Regions from separate parts of the Homo sapiens genome. Here region 1 is reported to be linked to region 2. Evidence: microRNA targets listed by miRTarBase, many of them from high-throughput screens and not tested one by one. Region 2 holds a microRNA gene; the other region holds the end of a gene's coding sequence.

The links. Region 2 holds the annotated microRNA hsa-miR-4697-3p (UGUCAGUGACUCCUGCCCCUUGGU, at 1,762-1,785, opposite strand). A microRNA usually pairs through its seed, bases 2 to 8, with sites in the 3' UTR of a target mRNA and lowers its output. Matches are read on the target gene's strand: a 7mer-m8 pairs with bases 2 to 8, a 7mer-A1 pairs with bases 2 to 7 and ends in A, and an 8mer does both.
Region 1: the mRNA of HNRNPH1 is a reported target of hsa-miR-4697-3p. Seed matches in the 3' UTR shown: 7mer-m8 at 1,789-1,795.

Annotation. Positions count from the first base shown.
Region 1 is chr5:179,613,031-179,616,430 of GRCh38, forward strand. HNRNPH1 (heterogeneous nuclear ribonucleoprotein H1) reads right to left here. Exons shown (of 14, transcript NM_001257293.2): 12 at 3,096-3,188; 13 at 2,516-2,565; 14 at 1,148-1,929. The coding sequence ends at 2,516. All of the region lies in intron 4 of LOC128966623 (a long non-coding RNA gene), which reads left to right. Among named protein-coding and RNA genes, the nearest start is that of HNRNPH1, 8.9 kb to the right of the region's middle. RefSeq lists an enhancer at 798-857.
Region 2 is chr11:133,896,745-133,900,144 of GRCh38, forward strand. MIR4697 (microRNA 4697) reads right to left here and starts at 1,837; the gene lies at 1,760-1,837. It overlaps IGSF9B (immunoglobulin superfamily member 9B), which reads right to left. Exons shown (of 20, transcript NM_001277285.4): 20 at 1-3,400.

The DNA of each region.
Region 1 (3,400 bases), not on the chromosome of region 2:
GTGATGAATTTGAAGCTCCTGCACCTGGAACTGTTTTCCTGTAACCATTTGTCTTTAACTTTTTTGTCTGTTTTTCTTCCCTAAGATGGCTGCAGCTAGAATCCCCCTCCCCTCTCCAAACCAAAGTATAAAAGAAAATCTAGCTCCTTCTTCGAGGCCGAGATACTTTCATGCGGTAGCCGTCTCTCGGTCGCCGGCTAATAAAGGACTCCTGAACTCGTCTCCAAGTGTGGCGTTTCTAACTCGCTCAGGTACACCACTTGGAAGCAGCTTGAATACTTGCTATCATCATGTTGGAGCTTCGAACTACCAAAACGTGATATATTTAAGAGTTCATTTAAACTTCTCATGTTAGCTCTCAATCTCTACCTATCGTTCTACCTTAGGAGACTTACATGGAATTTTGCTTCCAAGTGGAATTGATTTTTAGGAATGACCCAAAAATACAGAAGTTCAAAACTTCCATTTGAAAACCATCTGTGAAGGCTGGGCAATGGCTCCAGCCTATAATCCCAGCACTTTCAGAGGCCGAGGTGGGCAGATCTCATGAGGTCAGGAGTTGGAGACCAGCCTGGCCAACATCGTGAAACCCCGTGTCTACTAAACATACAAAAAAAATTAGCCTGGAGTGGTGGTGGGCGCCTGTAACCCCAACTACTTGGGAGGCTGAGGCAGAAGCCCACAAGGTGGAGGTTGCAGGTGAGCTGAGATCACGCCACTGCAATCCAGCCTGAGACAACAGAATATAACTCTGCCTCAAAAAAAAAAACAAACCTATGAGCTTATGAGCTAGAAGAAACCCACATATTCATCACACCTCCCTTGCCTCCGGCACCTTCCCAGCCAAGCATGAAGGCCTCAAAGACATGCAGGCATGCAGTGAGGGCACTGGCGCCTCCCCCTTTGTTTTGTGCAAGTGCTTAATGAGTTACAGGCAGTTCAGATCAGGTCCTGTGCAGCCAAATGACATACAGCCCTTCCACCAGGGCCCCAAAGACGAGTTTACCTTCAGTTGCACTGGAGGGAAGACTGAAGACATCTACGCAACAGCCTCAACTGCCAAGCCAGAGATGTGGCCCTAGGCCCCAGGTGGGCACAGAGCACCAAGACTCAGTCCACATGACACTGAAGCACAGACAAGACAGAGTGCAGTTTTTAAAAGGAGGATTTATTTGACAAGTTTCACTTAGCGCAATATACCTAAAAGGAAATCACAATACAATGAAAGATTTAAATCAAGGCCTCAGAATTTCATACAAACACCAAGACCAAAATCCTAAGTATTGGTATTGCGTCTCAAATTTTTCCCATTAACTTAAAAAAAAAAAAAGCTTAAACTTACGTGCCTTACAGGTTATTAAATGAAACTAGAATTAACAAACATGCCAAAATGTTTCACTTTTAATAGTAGACACAGCTCCTATATTGTTTTACAAAAAAATAAAAGCATGTCTTTCAACATGCATCCAAAACAGTGTTCAATTTAACGTGGCAAAGGGCAACATTTAACATAATTCAACTGCTTTTACCTAAATACGCTTACTGCTTAAGTACATCCTATAACTAACTTGAGAAAAGCTGGAACTTAAGTTTAACAGTTATAGTTTACTCAGCTTCACTGTTACATCCTAGATGAGTATTGTATTCAAAAATACTGGGCCTTAAGTCTTCATAACAATCCTGATTTCCACTTAGAGTAAGCATAAATCACAAGCTTGTATTGCAGAAACTGTTAAACTGAAGTTTTCTTAAAGAAAAAAAAAAAAAAAAAAAAAAGGTTGACCAAGAGTCAGTGATCAGGATCGATCAATTACATTCCCCATCCACCACTCATACTGGACATGCTAGACAACCCTCCCATTCCGTTCACGCCCATAGATGCACGGCTTCCACTACTGTAGTAGCTGCTGTTCACTGCTCCTTGGTTACCTGCAAAGAGATCAATTTGACAAGTTAGGAGTAATATCAGACTACCAGTCAAATAAAATATAGTATTCCAAGAAAAAGTTTAAAAAGTATACGAGTACAAATGGCTGCTGTCCAAGTGGCGAGACGCATGTTTGGGAAAGGGGAATCCCGACTCCAAACAAGCCTCAATTAACCCCTTTTCTCTGCAGTACCAACTTGCCAGACTCTTGTGCTACCATTTTAACGGATTCTTCAGGATCAACATGAAAAATTAAGTTTAAAGGAAAACTAGTGTTTTTCAAAAATTGCAAAATTACTTCGTATTTTTAAAGCTAAACAAGGCATTTTTAAAAAAAATTTAACATAAACATTCACAATGTGTCCCTCGAATGGCATTTGAGAAAAGGGAGCACAGGGGAAGTCTCTTGCTTTTCCTATTCATGGTGGGCAGGAAGTGAGACAACCAAGCTGGACTAAAGGCAACTCACTGTGCCCAAATGGCAGCCTCCATGGAGTTAAGTCAGAGCCATTGACTGCTATAGAAAGCATTATTACAACATATCAGTATTTGCTATTGGGAATTTATATTTTTTGAGAAAATATTTACCTATGCAATGTTTGATTGAAAATCACTGGAGTTTTCCTGTAAAACTTGGTCTGCAAAAGGATTTTGTAGGGTAAGACTATAATACCAAAATCACCATTCTTTAGACCAATTGAAAAAAAATAAATAAAACCAATCCTAGGTTAACTGACTAATAAATACGATCCTGAACCCAACCACCATTCTACTATTTCAAATTCTCCCTCTGTCTAAAACTGACTTAATGCTAACCAAAAGACAAAAAAGTGAACAACTTTATTTAATGTTTTAATACATGGAGGCAGATATTTTCTGGCTCGACAGTATTCCAAAGCTGCAATGACTAGTTCTTAATTCAAAGAACACTTCCCCCTCCCAATGATTGTTTCTGAAAATTAGCTAGTAAAAACAGTTACATTTGGATTGAAAGCATACATTTCATAACCCAATTTCACCGAAAGGAGCCTGCATCTTCCCAACTAAAGGCACCTGCCTGCGACTTACTCTAAGTACAGTAACAGGCTTTACCATAACTTACTCTAAGTACAGTAATGAACAGGCTTTACCATAACTTACTCTAAGTACAGTAACAAACAGGCTTTACCGTATCCACTCATGCTGCTCTGGCCACCGTAGCCGCCTCCGTAACCCCCACTCAGCTGCTGGCTGGCTGGGCCCCCGTAGCTGGACTGGTTTGCTGTTAAGTTAAGAAAACATTAGAACCTTTTTTCTTATGTGATGTGGTACCTGGTGGTACCGGGCTTGTAATTCTATAGCTATCATTTTCCAGTCTTGATCTTACATTACTGTAACCCTCTGCCTCCTTCTGCCTACTGTCTATAACCAGGCCACCCTTCTATCCATCATTTGAGCCAGTCAAATATTGATAAACCAAAGTGCTAACGGTAC
Region 2 (3,400 bases):
AGCTGAGGCAGGCTGCAGGTTCTCTTCCTGACTGAGTCTGGGGTGTCACTCCATTTTTGACTGCCAAGTCAAAGGACAAAGGGATCACCATCATCAGCAGCCAGGGCAGGCGTCTATTGCTTAGGGCCGTAGAGCAGGCGTGGCTTTGGGGTCATCTCCAGCGGGGTCTTCTCAGTGTTTGGGAAGAAGGGGCAGGGCAGTCTATAGGCCCAGGCCCAGCAGCAGGATGCCCAGGGTCCCTGCAGGAAGAACCCTCTTCCCCAGGAAAGCAAGGAAGGGTTCGGGAGGAGACAGTTCCTCCTACTCTTGGAAGTCTGTGATTTGGTGGCTGGGGGTGCCTGCCCATTGGAAGGGCCCCTTATAAATGCTTTGAGTTTGGAGATTTTGAGGGAAAAAAAGCACCTGATTGAGAGTGTAGCTGTTTCCAATACACCTCCCTTCCCTGACGGAGAAGGGAAGGAGGCAGAAAACAGGGGAGAGAGCATCCCCCCTTCATTCCCACACCGCCCCACTCCCAGAGCCAACCTGGGCCTCCCTTCAAGCTCGTACTTAGTACATTCACCATGACACTGTGCACCTGTGAGCTCTCTCCCGCTCTCACTCTCTTGCGTGCACACACGCACACGCACACACACGCACAGGTATGCACACATATATATGCAGGTGCGCGCACACACACACATCTGGTTTCCTTGCAGTCTGCTCAGGCAGCAGAAGGGTGTCCCATCCTCACCGTCATCTTTTACTTCCCAGGGTGCCCTTGGCCCACAGGTCCCCAAGACCCAGCCCCAGGCTTGGCACGCGCTGGCATTCCCAGGCTTTTGAGAAGAGGGTGATAGAGCAGGGAGCTCCTCACAGACAGGTTATACAGAGTGTAGAATATGTTCATATAAGGCTTTGGTACAGCACCGATTTCATGTTCTTATAGTTTGATTTCTAAGTCATCTTTTAGAAGAAAAAAAAGCTTACTGAAAAAATAGTGGTTTTATTTACTTTTGAGTTACATACCTGAAGTTCAAAAAGTAAGCCTCTAGTTGCCATTCAAGTTCACACTCAAAGGTGTTCTGTGTGCAGCTGTACAATTTGTTGGTTTGTCTTTAATGTTGAACAAAAGTCAGCCAACCCATACCATAAAGTCAGCTGCCCAAACTCACTTTAACCAGTCCATACATACATACAGAAAAGAAAGAGAGAGAGAGGGAGAACACAAAAGCCGCCCCTAAGTCACCCACCCCAAACCCCTAGGGAAAAATCAGAAAGAAGACAAAATACAGCAAGATATCAGGAGCCAGTGGGAGGAAGGAGATTCAGCCCAACTGGCCTCTTCGAGAACAGCACCATGAAGCACCCTAGCGCAGTGATGTTGTAATACTCAACATTCAAGAAATGGAAACGAGGTTGGAACGGTCTTCACAGGAAGACCTGGCATGGATCGGGGGTCGCCCCCAAAGAAAGTGGAAGAAAGAAAGAGTTCGAAATGAGAGCAAGAAATCTCATGACGAAACTGACAGTCATATCCAGAAAAGAAGAACTACAGCAAGAGGCTGCCGCGCACCGAGAGGTACAGAGTTTGTAAGGGGTCTGGGGGAGGTAGCCCCTCCCCACCCACACTGCCTGCTCACCCCCACCCTCTGTGTGTCCTCAGACCACCAGGTGAAATGGAGGAAAGAAGCTCATCTAAAACTTGCCCCCAGGTGTGCGATGGGAGAATTCTATCCTGCATGATCAAAGTCCCTCCTGGGGAAGAGAAAAACACTGAAGACCAAGGGGCAGGAGTCACTGACATGAAGCGGGATGTGGTCCCTTCACGTCAGTGACTGCGCCCCCTTCTGGGCCCTCTATCCCCAGCCCCACACCTGGCAGTTAGGAAATTAAATCTGAATGGGAGGTCAAGACCTTCTGACACTGATACAGACGACTTAGCAAGTGGAGCGTTAAACTGCTCTTCTCCCCTAGCCAACAATTCCCCTTTCTAACACCTCAGTCTAAAGTTCCAGAATCAAGACCATCCCATCAAGTACCTTCCTCCCAGTCCCTGGACTCTGAGACTCCACCCTCCAATGCCACAGGCAACCCCCTGTGGACAGGAAGTGTGTGTGCAGGCTTGCCTCTTCCCCCACCTCCTACTTTCAGACCGCCCAAAGTGGATCACCATGAACATCTACCGCCAAGAAGAGTGGAAGCGGGAAGCAGGCAGCAAAAATCCACGACAGAGCCTTTTCCCCAAGCTGCTGGTTGGTGACAGTGGGGAAGAGGGACAGGGCCCACACTGATCCATGGGAGAGTGATTCTCACACATCTCCCTATTCCCGACTCTTGCTCTATATAGTAGACAGAGGTAGCAAGACAGAAACAACTCCTCAGATACCTCCACCTTCTACCAAAGGGAAAAGCACCAAAATTCAATGTCCATTCTGCTGTGGGGACCAAGGAACGTGTCCCAAGCATGGGGAAGAGCTCAGGCTCCTGGCAGTGGCTGTGGGCCGTAAAAGCTCCATCAGAGCACACTCATCCACCTGTCGCCCCAACTGATGCCACAAGCGGTTCCCAGGCCTCCTCCTTACTCCACATAAAGCTGATCTCAATGACCTTTGCTCCAAGTGCCTTAAGGGCTGGCTCTTCAGAGAAGCTGGAGGTCCCCTCTGACACCCAACCTTACCTCATCTTGCTGAGCAGTGGAGCAGAAAGGTCACAGGTAGGCACTAACATCCCCTCCACACTGTACAATTTCAAGGTAGGGGCTATGGCCCCATCTTCCCTTTCCCTCCCCAAAATGAAGAGTCCTGTTGGAGGCTGAGGAATAGAATGGTGACATGTGGGCCAGTGGCTCTCCCAGACCTTGATGCTGCTGAGGACCTAATCTTGGGCTGGCCCTGGTGGGAGGGCAAGCCCTAGGACATGCCCGAGGTGTTGGAGCAGTTTACTCTGCTGGTTGCATGTGGCCAGAAGTCGGGCAGAGTCCACAGAAAGAGAGGGGATGGTGGGTCTAGAAGCCAACAGAACAGTAATGGGAGCCTCCCTTGTGCAGAGACCGTGGTGGTCTGGGAAGGCTTCAAGGTAGGAAGGGAACAGAATTTGCACCTCTTCTTCTTGCCCAATCCCCCTGAAAAATCTTACAAGAAACACTCAGCTGCAGGAGCCTGCAAGAAAGATCATTCAAGGCAAGGATGGTGCCACTGACAGTGGCACCAGCACTGGATCCTTCCAGCTGCATGGACAGAGCCCATTTCCCATCAGCGTCCTCGGAAAGTGGGGAGTGTTCTCAGCAGTTAATTTGAGGACCCAAGGACAGTGCCTGACTGAATGGCAGGGCCTCATAGGTCCATGTAAGGATCAAGAGTTAGACTCAAGCTTTACCCCAACCTACTCTTCCCATAATACCCCAAAACTGTCAACCAAG